4 linked regions of the Homo sapiens genome follow. The protein of the gene in region 1 purifies or fractionates together with the protein of each later gene. This does not show direct contact. Each region holds a gene or a part of one and is shown in the gene's direction. Other genes may lie near its edges.

Region 1 (5,303 bases):
ATTATAGTTCTCATAGCAAACTTTTGCTTTCTAAAATATTCTCGAGTTTGAACTTACAGTACTGTACTAACCCATGAAAAATCATGTTGTTCATGAATCACCTGAAGAAGCCATCTGTTGAGGTGGACTCCAGCAGCCAAAGAGAGCAGGCTTGTGTGTCCTGCTCCTCCCCGTCCATGGGTAAAGTGTTGTTAGGGAGTCTCATGCTTTAACACCCATTTTTTGTTTGTTTGGTTCTGTAGTTTTAAGTCATCTAGATTTCTAAACTCATATTAATAATTGGATGTTATGATTGTACTTTCTTACGCAGTTATGCTTTGTTAGTGGAAGAAAGTAGTAATGGTATTGAAAAGAACATCTGTGCAAGACAAAAAGATATGGAAACAGAAGTACAGGGAAAAGCTAATGATTATCTTCAGCAGCATAATAATTAATCTACAAAGTAATGATTCAGTCTTCCATCAGAGTGGCCACGGCAGCTGCAGAGATGGGAACTCTTTGTTCTCATTAAATTATCTTGTTAGGTCATTCCAGAACTCTCTCTGTGTGGTATTCTAAGGGCTTTCAGAGGGTCTTTCTGGGTCAGTTATTGAAGCTCTTTATGAGGCATCTGGACAATATATGGCAACTACATAGGACAAGGGTCAGCAAACTTCTGTAAAGGACCAGATAGTGAATATTTTCAGCCATACAGTCTCTGTTGCAAGTAGTCAGTTCTATTGTTGTAGCATGAAAACAGCCATAGACAGTATATGCAATATGAGTGTGGCTGTGCTCCAGTAAAACTTGACTTACAAAAACAGGCTGTGGGCTACAGTATTGTACTTTACCAATACTTGACATAGAAGAGGGGCATTAATGTGCCTGGAATGTGCCTTCCTAGTGAGACTTCATGAGGGGATTGTGGTATATAGGTTAAGGGTATGAACTAGCCCAACTGGGTTTAAATCCTGGTGCCGGCACTTATTAGCTGTGTAACCTTAGGCAAGCTACTTAACCTCGCTGTGCCTCAGTGTCCTCATGCTTCACATAAGGATAATTATAGTACCTCTGTCACAGGGTTATTATGAGGAATGAATAAATTAATATTTTTAAAGTATTTAGAACAGTACCTGGCACACAGTAAGTACAGTAAATAAAATGTGTTTAATAAATAATCTGAAAAATATGAATTTGATTACATAAAATAAAATTACTTTATTTAAAGATTGTGTCTCCTGCTAGGCACGGTGCCTCACGCCTATAATCCCAGCACTTCGGGAGGCCAAGGCTGGTGGATCACTTGAGCCCAGGAGTTCGAGACCAGCCTAGGCAACATGGCAAAAACCCTCTCTACAGAAAAATAGCTGGGCATGGTGGTGTGCACCTGTGGTCCCAGCTACTTGGGAGGCTGAGGTGGGAGGGTCGCTTGAGCCCAGGATGTGGAGGCTGCAGTGAGCTGAGATCATGCCACTGCACTCCAGCCTGGGCAACAGAGCAAGACCCTGCCAAGAGAAAAAAAAGACTGTGTCTTTTCACATTCCACCAATATACTGATAGCATCTGTCTCTCTGCATTCTCAATAGCATCAAATATTATTACAGTGGGGGAAAAACCTTTGATAATCTTGTTGGCAAAAATGCGTATTTTTTTGATTACTAGTGAGTTTATTTATTTATTTTTTTATTTTTCGAGATGGAGTCTTGCAGTGTCTCCCAGGTTGGATTGCAGTGGCGCAATCTCAGCTCACTGCAACCTCCATCTCCCGGGTTCAAGCGATTCTCCTGCCTCAGCCTTCTGAGTAGCTGGGACCACAGGCGCGTGCCACCACACCCGGCTAATTTTGTATTTTTAGTAGAGACAGGGTTTCACTGTGTTGGCCAGGCTGGTCTTGAACTCCTGACCTCATGATCCTCCCGCCTTGGCCTCCCAAAGTGCTGGGATTACAGGTGTGAGCCACTGCGACTGGCCAGTGAGTTTAAATATTTAATGAGTCTTGGCACTTTTTCCTTATTGAGCTCTATGAGCTTTTTCTGTAGAAGATATTAACTGTTGGAGCTTCATGTTCTCAGGTACCCTATCTTGAGTCTATAGTGAACCTTTTGAAGTTGAAAAGAGTATTTTTGCCTCAATTATAAAATCTGTATTGTTCCATAATCTTAATTAAGCTGATAAAACTTGTTTGTGCATCTTTGTGCTCATGTGGCAATAGATGGGGTTAGGGCTTGGTTTCAGTTTGCCTAGGGTTAAAGGAGGTTCACATCCTTTGTGTTACTGTCCAGTTTCCCCGCATGCAGTCAGGTTAGCTCTGTGAGGAGTGCCTGGTCATCTGTAATTCAGACATTAAGGAAGTACCTGGTGTGTGCTAGAAACAGAATGCAGAGTTCAGGCCAGGGTGAGGATTTCTGCCCTCAGGAAGATCACAGCCTTTTGACAAAAGAGGAGGCACCATTTGCCTAGTGGAAATCAGCTTCAACAAAAAAATCACCTGCTTTTCTCTACAAGTCCCCGGAAGAGATCAGTAGATAAAATCCAAATCCCACACCTGTCCTCCAGAGAGATGATTATTGTTAGTTACTGAGAAGGGAAATGGATGAAAGGCATATGTGGCACAGGGGTCACCGCAGGATGCAGAGGTCTTAGGGGGTGTGCCGTGAAAGGCCAGCTCTCTGTCAGAGGCTCTGCTCCTTTGTCGGAGCACGTGCCCTCAAGTCAGCTCCACTGCAGTGTGCGCTGGAACCTGAGAAGTTGCTGAGTAGCCGAGGAGTGGCTCCAAGGAGCCTGGAAAGCAGTCCTCCTTTGAGGACCATTCAAGGTGGAGTGTGACGTTTTGTCGATTCTTGAAAGGGAATTGGGAGGAAAGAGGAGGAATAAAGGGATGGGTGTAGGGCTGTGTGTACAGCATTTTATGTGTTTTCTGATTTATCTTCACAACTTTGAGACAAACTGTCACCCCCAGTTCACAGATGATGAAACAGATTCAGAGTGACAGAAGGACCAAGAGAGTATTCAAGATTGAACCCAAATCTGTCTCTCCCAAAGCCATGCTCTTCCAGGTCACACCTGTGCCTTGATCTGTCTTTATGTCAGGATCTGTGCAGTGGGGCATCTGGGTTTGAATGTTTTTTTAAGTACTATGATTGTTGGATAAATTGTCATATGAGATAGAAATAAGGCCATGCTGCAAATTTTGAAAATGTACAGCTTGATAAATGGGGGCAAACATGATCCAGGGTAAGAAGGGGCAATTTGGTGACTTCACAAAAGATACCATTTAATGAAAATTTACTAGTTTTTTGTTTTTCTGTCTCCCAAAACAGGACACTCCTGGGTTTATTGTGAACCGCCTCCTGGTTCCATACCTCATGGAAGCAATCAGGCTGTATGAACGAGGTATCCTTCTGACCCAGGCCAGGAGCAGCAGACCTCAGCTCCTGGCGCCACTGTCTGGAATTCTCAGTGTCTCTAGGAGGGGTCGGGCCGTGCACAATGGAGGAAGCAGTGTCTGTTTTCTAGCTTTGTGAGCTCAGCTGCACCCTGAGCCCTGGTACCTTTTTCACTGTTTTCCCAGGGCCTCCTGGCTTCCCTGTGGGCCTCTGAGAAAGGTTTCTGGAACTCCCACCACCCCCACTACAGTCCCAGCCAGAGCAATTGCATGGCCGGCCCAGATTGATATCCTGGATCTCTGCTTTTGATTAAAAGGTTTACTGCTTTTAAAAATAATCATAATGTAAAAATCACTAGGCTAGGAGATCTTGAAAGTTCCTTAAGGTTCTAAAACTTGTGACTGACAGGTGATTAGAAATATGTGACAAGGCCGATATGTGGTAAGGACAGTTTTTAGTAGTCTGTCCTTACTGAGTGATGTCATGATGTACTTTTTGTAACCTTAAGAATGGTGTAAACAGTTTTCCTCAGTACTTGATTGACAAAGAATGCTTTTCTCTGCTGTAGAAATATCAGATTTGGGACAGGGTCCAGGCCTCTAAATTGATCTGCATTCTCCTGCCTGCTTTCCCTCCCTGGTTTCTGGAAAGGTAGCTCTCATGTCTGCTTCAAAGGCAAACAAGCCTTAATAGGACTGGATAAAAAGCAAGTGTAATTGTTTTCAATTACTTCATTCATAAATGCTCACTCCTGAGAGTGTCATTTTTTAAACAAAACATTTACACCAGCTCTTCCAGAGAGATGAAAGCACATTTGCTTCCTCAAAATCTGCTTTAAATATTAAAACTTTTCTCTATGGTTTATGGAAGCAATTGCCTCACTTTTGCTCCAAGATCAAACCAACAGTTCTGGTTTATCTATCAACAAATATGCCTAATTACACCTCAAAGAAAGCACAGAGCATTTTACCCTACCTTGAAAGGCAGTTGTATGTCTTTTTTTTTTTTTTAACAAAATGTAATGTTTTAGAATGTAGCATGTGAGAGATCCACCTTTTAATGGTGTTTTCCTCACTGTCCATTTGATGCATTCTCCAATGCACCAAGTATCAGATGGTAAGTTGAAAGCCCTCTTCTTGTCTGTGGTCCCTTTCTGCATAGGTGCATGCCCTTTAGCCCTCACCATCCCTGGCCGCCTGTGGGCTGAAGCTGGAAGAGCAGGACCTGGCCTCAGGACATGCTCTTAGCTTGCTCTGGGCATGGGCTTCAACAGCCTATCATTGCTGGTCCCTCTGCTTCTTTTTCCACCACCTTCTCAGAATCTGCTTCTGAAGTTGCTGGGTGTCCTGCCTGGGGTGGGTGCTGCTTCCCTACTGCACACTACAGTCACACCCTAGGCCTCTTACCATGTCCCCCCGCCCACCACCTGCTCCCTCCTCTCAGCCAACACAGAGGAGTGCTCAGAGCATGCCCACCGTGCCATCTCCGTTCATACAGTTCCACCTTGAAGCTTCAAGCATCTGGAGGCTCCTTCTCGTCTGCCACATCTGTTCATCACTTTTGATTCCTTCCTGTCATGCCTGTTCCACCTCTTCATCCCACCTTTTCCCCATCCCAGTCAGGCTGCCTTCATGAGGTTCCTTAGGTAGCAGAGTAATTCACGCTACTCATGTCTTTTCCTGACTGGTCCCCGCTACTGCACTTACTGAGAAAGTATCATATTGTCCAGGAAGTTGAGACACCGCCTACTGCATCTGCCCACACACCCCCTGCACAGCCTCGGCAGGAGCTCTGTGACTGTTTCTGAACTCATGCAAGGAGAAATTTTCTGTACCCCACTGTTGATACACCTGGGGTTCCAGGCACATGGTTTGGCCAATGCTGCCTTGAGTGGTGCAGGCTCTCTGGAAGGATGTGTGTGCTGTTGTAGGTCAGGCC
Region 2 (3,500 bases), on another chromosome or scaffold:
TGGGAGGCCGAGGCCAGTGGATCACTTGAGGTCGAGAGTTTGAGATTAGCGTGGCCAACATGGTGAAACCCCATCTCTTCTAAAAATATAAAAATTAGCCGGGTGTGGTATCACCTGCCTGTAATCCCAGCTACTTGGGAGGCTGAGGCATGAGAATCACTGGAACCTGGGAGGCGGAGGTTGCAGTGATACAAGATCGCACCACTGCACTCCAGGCACCACTGCACTCCTGCCTGGGAGCAGAGCGAGACTCTGTCTCAAAAAGAAAAAAAGAAGAAAGATCCTTTTGGGTGAGTTTAGAGGCTGGGAGGCCGAGGTGATGGTCACATGGGGGAGAATGAGGCCTCAGCCAAAGGTGACAGGACAGAGCAGAGACATGATGTGGCAGGAGAGACTGGGCTTAGCATGGGGAGGGAGGGCAGGGAGGAGGCAAGGACAGTGCCTGGGTCTGCCTTGGTAACACAGGTAGGAAACCCAGGAAGAACAGGAGGTTAGAGGAGGATCCTACAAGGGGAGTGTGAAGAGCCCAGGAGACATCGATGCAGGTTCAGGAGACAGGCCTGGGCTTGAAACAAAGACTTGAGAATTTTGGAGGGCACTGGGGAGCTATGGGAGTTCTATGAGCAGAAGAGGGGTGGGATCAGCACTAGGTGCAGAAAGAGCCCCCCTGGGCTTTGAGAATGGACTGGAATGGGAAATTGGAGGCCAGGAGTTAGGGAAGGAGGTTAGGGCTGGGTGAGGACCCGACCAGAACCTTCCCTGCCACACTGGTGCTCCCCACTGAGATAGGGGTACATGGAGCTCATCTGTTCCCCCAGGAGACCCTCGGGCACCACCTCTGCTCAGGGGTAGCTCATCTCATTTGAGGGCAAACCTCATGGCCTCAACCAGGGAAGGGGCAGAAGAGGGACGTCAGAAGAGCCACAGGCAGATGGGAGTGAGAAGAGGCAGGGAATTAGGGATGAGGCTGAGAAGGAAGGCCAAAGACTGCAAGGTATGTCAAGCAGAGCACGGAGACAGCAGAGCACAGCAGGCTCAGGTAGAGCTGGGGCCCCCGGAGAGAGATGGGGATCCCAGGGCCAGGTCAGTTCTGGGACAAAGAGGAGGCTGATGGGTCCAGGTAGGTCACTGGGTGTCCTGCCCAGCCCTGAGAAAGTCAGAAGAAAACAGAGAGAGATTATCAACAGCAGGGGCATCAGAGTACAGATCAGTCAACTGTGGCCGAAGGGCCTACCCGGAGAACAGGCCAAAAAGGCAGGGCCTGGGTGGGGCTGCAGAGGCCGAGGTGCTGGAAGCATGGCCTTTGCAGCCCCCTGCATTTGCTGGTCGTTCTCAGACTCCGATGTCCTACCTGTCCTGGGCCAGGGACAGTTCCTGGGGCCAGGGCCTCCAGCTGGGGAAATGCCGGATGAACTGGTCAGGATGCTGTTTGTTCTAGGAAGCAGATTCACAACTCAAACTGGCTTAAGCCAGAAAGCGAATTTATTATCTCACGTAAATCAGGGGCTTCAGGCACAGCTTGATCCAGGGTCACATATGAGCTGTAGGCTCCCCTCTACCTTGTCTTCACTGTCTGCATCTCCAGGCTCAGATCCCACCAGCCCAGTGACCCCAGCAGAAAGAAAGGAGCATCTTTCCCAAGGGCCCCAGCAAACTCCCAGGGCTGACTCTTCTTTGGTGCAGCTTGAGTCATGTGCCCCTCCCTGAACCAATCACTGGGCTGGGGCTAGAATGTCCTTGCTGGCCCAGACCCTGTTCATGCAGCTGCCCAGGGGCCACATAGGGTGGGACTCCTGAGAGGCTTTATACAGAGGGCAGAGACTTGACGACAGGGATGCCAGGTGGCCCCACATGTCCCTGGACAAGTGGCTGCTTATCTCTGGGCCCAAGTGAGGGGATCGTTCTAGACCAAAAGTCAGTGAACTATGGCCCAGAGCGACCTCTGATTTGTAAATAAAGCTTTATTGGAACATCACCACATACATTCATTTACATATTATTTATGGCTGCCTGTGTGCTACAACAGCAGCGCTGAGTCACCGTGACAGAGACCGTATGACCTGCAGAGCCTGAGATATTTACTACATCTGTTCCACCATAGAAAAGGTTTGCCAACCCGACTGGCTGCGGTGACTCATGCCTGTAATCCCAGAGCTTTGGGGGATCATCTGAGGTCAGCAGTTCAAGACCAGCCTGGCCAACATGTTGAAACCCTGTCTCTACTGAAAATACAAAAATTAGCTGGGCGTGGTGTTGGGTGCCTGTAATCCCAGCTACTCAGGAGGCTGAGGCAGGAGAATTGCTTGAACCCAAGAGGCGGAGGTTGCAGTGAGCCAAGATTGTACCATTGCACTCCAGCCTGGGTGACAGAGCAAGACTCCGTCTCAAAAAGAAAAAAAAGAAAGAAAAAGTTTGCCAACCCCTGTTCTAGACAGAGGCCTGAATGGTCCATGAGCTCCACTGATTGTCATACAGTCTTCTGTCTCTCCCCATTCAGGCCATCGATGATGACTGTAACCAGACAGGGCAGATGACAGCTGGATTTCTTGACTGGCCACAGGTGAGACTGGAGTGGGGAGCACCTGCTGAGGGCCAGGCCCTCATCCCTCAAACTTCATTTCTGCCTCAAGGCCTTTGCATTTGCTGTTCTCTCCTCCTGGAACACTGTTCCCTCGGATTGCCTCATGGCTTTCTTGTTCCCCTCCTTGAGGTCTCTGCTGAGGTATCACCTCTTCAAAGGGGCCTTCCTTGCCATCCTACGTGAAATACTCATGCCCACCCGCTCAACTCTAGGTTCCCCAGTCCCCATCTCTGCCAGTCCAATAGAAATGCAGGCTGGGGCCAGGCATGGTGAGTCATGCCTGTAATCCCAGCACTTTGGGAGGCCGAGGCAGGTGGATTACTTGAGGTCAGGAGGAGTTTGAGACCAGCCTGGTCAACATGTTGAAACCTCGTCTCCACTAAAAATTTAAAAATTAGCTGGGTGTGGTGGCGTGCGCCTGTAGTCTCAGCTACTCAGGGGGCTGAGGGAGAATTGCTTGAACTTGGGAGGCGGAGGTTACAGTGAGGCAAGATCGCACGCCACTGCACTCCAGCCTGGCAACAGAGGGAGGCTCCGTCTCAAAAAAAGAAAAAAGAAATGCAGGCTTGGCACAGTGGCTCACACCTGTAGTCCTAGCACTTTGGGAGGCCACGGTGGGAGGATTACTTGAGCCCAGGAGTTCGAGACCAGCCTTGGCAACATAGTTAGACCCCATCTCTACCAAAAAAGAAAAGTTAGCTGGGTGTGATGGCACATGCCTGTAGTACCAGCCTCAGGAGGCTGAGGTGGGAGGATCCCTTGAGTTCAGGAGGTCAAGACTGCAGTGAGCTGTGATCATACCACTGTACTCCAGCCTAGGTGAAAGAGGGAAACCCTGTCTCAAAAGAAAAAAAAAAAAAGAAGCAAGGCACATAGACAAATTTAAAATTTTTCACAGCTACATAAAAAAGTAAAAAGA
Region 3 (2,617 bases), on another chromosome or scaffold:
TAAAGAGTGATGATATTGAATGTTCAGCATGTAGCACATTTCTGTGTGCCAGATGATAGTAGCATGCTGCTGAAAAAGCAACCAATATGTTTGTGAAATGAACAATGAATGAATGAACGAACAGTGAGAGAACAAGTATAAAGGAGGTTGGCAGGAGTCATAATTGCAGTAAGCTAGAGACTTTGGTGTGGACTTGGAAGGAAAGTCAGGAATGCAGTTAAGGGTGGGAAGAATGCCAAGCAAAACATGAAGGTAAATACACAGTACTCTTCACCCAGACAAGAAAAATTGGGCTTCCTGTTTCTAGGGTGCCTTCTTGAAATTTGTGGTTGGGTCACAAAGCCAAAAGGTAGCAGTGTGTGCAGTGGTTCACGCCTGTAATCTCAACACTTTGGGAGGCTGAGGCAGGCAGATCACTTGAGCCCAGGAGTTCGAGACTAGCCTGGGCAACATGACGATACCCCATCTCTACAAGAATTAGACAGGTTGGTGGCTACTTGGGAGGCTGAGGTGGGAGGAGTGATTGACCCCAGGAGGTAGATGCTGCAGTGAGCCATAATTGTACCACTGCACTGCAGCCTGGGTGACAGAGTGAGAGCCTGTCTCAAAAAAAAAAAAAAAAAAAAAAAGGCAAAAGGCACCTAGGCAATGAGTGGGCTGTAAGCCCTGTCAGCCCTGGGTCCTGGGTAGTCGCCCTGGGTGGGAAGAGAGACTACCGGAGAACAGGGGGTTCCTGGTGGAGAGGAGGGGGCCCTCGTGCCTCAACAGTGATTTGTGTTGTTTCTTTTGGCCTCCCTGTAATGCTTACGGAGCTGTGACCATATCACAGTGAAGGCTCTAGTTGCTTAATTACTTTTTGTTTTTATTTGCAGGTAGTTCCTGAAATGACTGAGATATTGAAGAAAAAATGAATCAGGATCATGCCTTAAAAAGAAAACTTTTGTTAAAGTATTCCACTGAAATCACAGATATTTGTGGGTATTATAACAATCATTGGAAAGCATGGAGAGCTACATTTCATAATTTGAGGGAAAATTTCTAACAGATGCCAGAATGCTTGTTTATGGGATTGCTGTGTTTCCTTTTAATTATTTGTGGTTCCAAACAATTATTGTTTGAACTTTTTAAATTCTGTACTAAAATCTATAATAAAGCTTTTCCACAGCTTTAAAACTATCAGAAATATGCCTAGCCTCTAGAGAAAATTGAAGAAAAGGAGTAAAAATTTTGTTTATTTATTTATTTTTTTGCCTTTCTTGTTCATGGAGAGCTCTATGTTTTAGGAAGATTGTAAACATGATTGTCTCCACCAGCCTAATCAACCTACTAATCTCATTGTTGAAGGGCAAACTTCATAGGAGAAGGTAACTGAATTGGCAAGTGCAGAGTTAAAAAAGCACGGCTATAAAGCATGAATATTATCTTAAACATACTCCAGTCTTCAGAAGACCATAGCTAATGTGACAAAAGCAGACCTGACTTAAACCTGACCCAGCTCCATGTATTTAGTTGGCTTAAGGTAAATTTCATTTTCCGTTTAATTTTAAGGTTTTGTCAGTTTATAGGACTTTTGTCTGTAAAGGAGGGAGAGTGGAGGAGGGGCTGCTTTGAGACAGCATGGCCTCTGATGCAAGCAGATAGTTTGATGTTATTATAAACATTCAAAATCCTGTGCAGAGAATGCTCTAGCCTTTCTTTTGCCTTCTGTTGGCTTCTTTTGGGCTCTCTTAGGAAGCACCCAGGCCTGTGTAGTCACCTCTGGCACTCTCATTCTGCTGCCCAGGGCACAGCTGAGGTCCAAGAGTGTCACCAGGGCTGCAGCTGGTGTGGATGCAGGCCCAAGAGCAGAGGCTGGTGAGGCTTTGAACAGGCCTGCAGGAAGGCGTGGGTAGGTAGGTGAGTAGAACAAAGAGGGCTGCCCTCCTGAATCAGATCTGCAGAAGTAGGAGTAGTGACCTGGATCAAGCAGACAGTAGGGAAGAGAAGGGAAGTGATAAGTGATGGAGGTGGCTAGAGTGCCTTTGTGTGACCAGCCTGGGGCCCTTCCCCAGCTGACTAGTGAACCCTTTCTGATTTGTGTCACAATCAGTTGCTATAAAACACTTTTAAAAGTTGTATCTTTGGCATTTCAGTCTTCTTTTAATGAGATGAGAGGAGAGCAGTAGAATGATGCCTCTTTGCAAGTAATGTCTGTTAGAATAGAAGAATCCTAGAATGTCTGAGCCCGGTGATTATCTGGTCAGACCCCTTGTTGTATAGATGGGCATACTGAAGCACAGAGAAGTGAAGAAGGTAAAGTGACTTGGCCAAGGCCACATGGCTTGAATCACCTTTGGGAGAGTAATTCCTATGTCTTGTTTTTATCTGTGAGGTTCTTCCTAAGAGGGCTAACCTTGCTCAAGATTTTTTCCATTTACCCCTCATCCCTGTTGGATGCTATAACTGGGGGACAGGAGAGATGGCAAAGGTGATGGCCACAGAGGCACCCCCAGTAGAAGGTGTGCTGGCTCAGGGAGGGACATCCCAGGTGGTGCCTCGGCTCAGAGTTGAACTGGTTGGTCTTTCTCCCTTTGCTCCCTCCTGTCATGGCTGCCCTGCCTCAGCCCCAAGCAGCTGT
Region 4 (3,500 bases), on another chromosome or scaffold:
GCCCCAGAGGCTGCTTTGTTTTGGTTTGTTGTTGTTGTTGTTTTGAGACAGGGTCTCACTCTGTTGCCCAGGCTGAAGTGCAGTGATATGATCACTGTTCACTGCAGCCTCGACCGCCTGGGCTCAACCAATCCTCCCATCTCAGCCTCCCAAGTAGCTGGGACTACAGGCACATGCCACCACACCCAGCTAATTAAAAAAAATTTTTTTATAGAGATGGGATCTCACTATGTTGCCCAGGCTGGTCTCGCTTGAACTCCTGGACTCAAGCAATCCTCCTGCCTTGGCCTCTCAAAGTGCTAATGTTACAGGTATGAGCCACTGCACCCAGCCTGCCCCAGAGGCTTGATTAGATTCAGGGTCAACTTCTTTGGTAAGAATACTTCATGGTGCCATAGGAAACACACCATATCTGGTCATCTCATTTTTTGATCCTAAAATTCATTGGTGGGTTTGGGTGAGCCATTTTGCTTTTTTAACAAGATAGTACAAACACTTCTTGCTGTTAGTAGTTGTCAGCATAACAGTTTCACCATCTTTATCAGTGTTTTGTGGTGTTTTCAATTTTTCCTAATCAACAGGAGGAAGACATCTTATTGTTTACTTTTAAATTCCCTTTATAGTTGTGCTATTTTACATTTTTCTGTGTGTTCACTTGTTTTATCTGTCTCTCATCAATTTCTTTTGACCCATACCTATTTGATTTTTTTGATGACCTTTGGAATGAATTTGGACAAAATCCTTAGGTAATGTAGATTTTAAGCTTTTCTCACTCAGTACTTTGTCCATTCTTTGTTGCTTTTTACCCTTCATTATGCCATCTTTTATGTATTGAAGTAATTTTGATATTAGATAGTCTAATCTGGTGATCCTTTTCCTTGTCAAGCCTGGACTTCTAGAATAATGGGAAAGAAATAGCACCAGAATTTGGAATCTTTTGAAGTTGAAGATGACTGCAGGATTCAGCTGCTTTTCTCTTTTATTTTGCCAAAAAGAAAAAAAAAGGCCTAGGGAAGTCATGACTTACCCATCTTTACACAATTAGTTGGGGCCAGAGTTGAAACCAGACACTAACTCTCCAAAATCTTTTTTCCCTCCTCATTCTATCACTATCTCTAATGAGTGACTTAGTTAATTTGGAATGAGAATGATGGATTTTGTATTTTGGTTAAAAAAAAAATCAAAGCATTTTCTTACCATAAATTATGTATTTTGTGGAGGCTTGCTTCTTATTAGAATACTATTACAGCTATTATATCTAGTGGAAAAGTACTATTTCTTTCTTTTTTTTGAGACAGAGTATTGCTCTGTCACCAGGCTGGAGTGCAGTGGTGCGATCTTGGCTCACTGTAACCTCCGCCTCCCGGGTTCAAGTGGTTCTCCTTCCTCAGCCTCCCAAGTAGCTGGAACTACAGGTGCATGCCACCATGCCCAGCTAATTTTTATATTTTTAGCAGAGACGGAGTTTCACCATGTTGGCCAGGAGGGTCTCAATCTCTTGACCTCATGATCTGCCCACCTTGGCCTCCCAAAATGCTGGGATTAGAGGCGTGAGCCACCACACCTGGTTGAAAAATACCTTTCTTTCTTTCTTTCTTTCTTTTTTTTTTTTTTTAAGATGGAGTCTTGCTCTGTCGCCCAGGCTGGAGTGCTGTGGTGAGATCTCTGCTGACTGCAGCCTCTGCTTCCGGGATTCAAGCGATTCTCCTGCCTCAGCCTCCTGAGTAGCTGGGATTACAGGCACATGCCACCACGCCCAATTAACTTTTGTATTTTTAGTAGAGATGGGGTTTCACCATGTTGGTCAGGCTGGTCTCAAACTTCTGACCTCGTGATCCTCCTGCCTTGGCCTCCCAAAGTGCTGGGATTACAGCCGTGAGCCACCGTGCCCGGCTGAAAAATACCATTTCTTATTCAGTTTTATATACTTTAAATTTTAGAACCACTTTGATCTCTTTTCTTTTTCTTTTTCTCTTTTTCTTTTTCTTTTCTGACAGGGTTTTACTCTGTCACCTAGGCTGGAGTGCAGTGGTACATTCTCAGCTCACTGCAACCTCCGCCTCCCGGGTTCAAGTGATCCTCCTTCCTCAGCCTCCCAAGTAGCTGGAACTACAGGTGCGCACCACCATGCCCAGCTAATTTTTATATTTTTAGCAGAGATGGGGTTTCACCATGCTGGCCAAGCTGGTCTCAAACTCCTGACCTCAGGTGATCCACCCGCCTCGGCCTCCCAAAGGGCTGGGATTACAGACATGAGCCACCATGCCCGGACAATTTATTTATTTTCTTTTTGAGACAGGGTCTCTCTGTCGCCCAGGCTGGAGTGCAGTGGTGCGATCATGGCTCACTCCAGCCTCAACTTCCCAGGCTCAAGTGATCCTTCCACCTCAGCCTCCCTGGTAGCTGGTACTATAGACACGCACCACCATGCCTGGCTAATTTTTTATGTTTTGTGGAGACAGGATCTTACCATGTTGCCCAGGCTGGGTCTCAAACTCCTGGGCTAAGCAGTGTCCCACCTCAGCCTCCTGTAGTGCTACGACTACAGACGCAAGCCACCGTGCCTGGCCAACTTTGAGAATTTAAAGTATTATTGTTGTTTAAGAGTAAAAAATGATCTGATTTTGACCAATATTTTGCCCAACAGGAAGCCAGCAGACCTGCAGAACTTGGCTCCCGGGACCCACCCACCATTTATAACTTTCAACAGTGAAGTCAAAACGGATGTAAATAAGATTGAGGAATTTCTTGAAGAAGTCTTATGCCCTCCCAAGTGAGTATCAAGGAAAATACGTATGAAAATATTGTCACTTCTTTGAAGCTTGTGTTATTTGTCAGTAGAGATCTTTCTCGCAGCATTAATTTGGAATGACTAGGACTCTCTTCTATGTTTCTTATAATTAATGCTACACAGATATAAGAATTGGCTTCCAGCTAGGCCAATCAGCCATACTAAGAAAGGTGGGGATTTGTCTAAGCTGTAGAATATGTGGTAGAAACAGATTTGGGATGTGTCTGATAGGTCAGGAAAGACTGGTTATTTGTGGACTGTAGGTCTCAAACTGAGAGAGAAGTTTAAAGAGGAGAAGGGGTGGGGAAAGACACATTCCAACTGAACCCAGTAAGAATGTCTTAGCAGGAGTGTGGCACAGGACTGCAATGAGATTTGATTTCAGTTCATTTTAAAGGTAACTTTCTAAAGCTATAATCCAAGGACATTGACTTTTCCGACTGTGTCCCTAGGATTCAGAGTTTTTATTTACTTACTTCTTTGAGGTGTTCCAGATCTCTAGGTCCTGGATGTACTGTAATGATAGTTACCTAAATTGCAGATATGCAGCTTTGCATCATACTGTAATATTGGCATAGATTCAAAGCATTATTTGTTTCTTTTAGGCTTTTCCAGTTTCATTATCCTGAAAATTGACATGTTTTGTTTCTACTGACCAAAACCTTTCTTACTGGTTAACTTGACTGTTGCCCTCCATGTCCAGATATAT

What was found.
Region 2: the proteins of HADH (region 1) and ETFB fractionate together in Homo sapiens (co-fractionation; one large-scale study listed by BioGRID). This does not show direct contact.
Region 3: the proteins of HADH (region 1) and ETFA fractionate together in Homo sapiens (co-fractionation; one large-scale study listed by BioGRID). This does not show direct contact.
Region 4: the proteins of HADH (region 1) and CLIC4 fractionate together in Homo sapiens (co-fractionation; one large-scale study listed by BioGRID). This does not show direct contact.

Annotation. Positions count from the first base shown.
Region 1 is NC_000004.12:108,024,389-108,029,691, forward strand, and holds part of HADH (hydroxyacyl-coenzyme A dehydrogenase, mitochondrial isoform 2 precursor), read left to right. Parts: intron 1-3,299; coding exon 3,300-3,372; intron 3,373-3,550; exon of another isoform or gene 3,551-3,681; intron 3,682-5,303. UniProt on the Homo sapiens protein: Mitochondrial fatty acid beta-oxidation enzyme that catalyzes the third step of the beta-oxidation cycle for medium and short-chain 3-hydroxy fatty acyl-CoAs (C4 to C10).
Region 2 is NC_000019.10:51,349,389-51,352,888, reverse strand, and holds part of ETFB (electron transfer flavoprotein subunit beta), read left to right. Parts: intron 1-2,497; coding exon 2,498-2,560; intron 2,561-3,500. UniProt on the Homo sapiens protein: Heterodimeric electron transfer flavoprotein that accepts electrons from several mitochondrial dehydrogenases, including acyl-CoA dehydrogenases, glutaryl-CoA and sarcosine dehydrogenase.
Region 3 is NC_000015.10:76,214,853-76,217,469, reverse strand, and holds the end of ETFA (electron transfer flavoprotein subunit alpha, mitochondrial), read left to right. Parts: intron 1-872; coding exon 873-911; 3' UTR 912-2,117; downstream 2,118-2,617. UniProt on the Homo sapiens protein: Heterodimeric electron transfer flavoprotein that accepts electrons from several mitochondrial dehydrogenases, including acyl-CoA dehydrogenases, glutaryl-CoA and sarcosine dehydrogenase.
Region 4 is NC_000001.11:24,811,447-24,814,946, forward strand, and holds part of CLIC4 (chloride intracellular channel protein 4), read left to right. Parts: intron 1-2,647; coding exon 2,648-2,773; intron 2,774-3,500. UniProt on the Homo sapiens protein: In the soluble state, catalyzes glutaredoxin-like thiol disulfide exchange reactions with reduced glutathione as electron donor. Can insert into membranes and form voltage-dependent multi-ion conductive channels.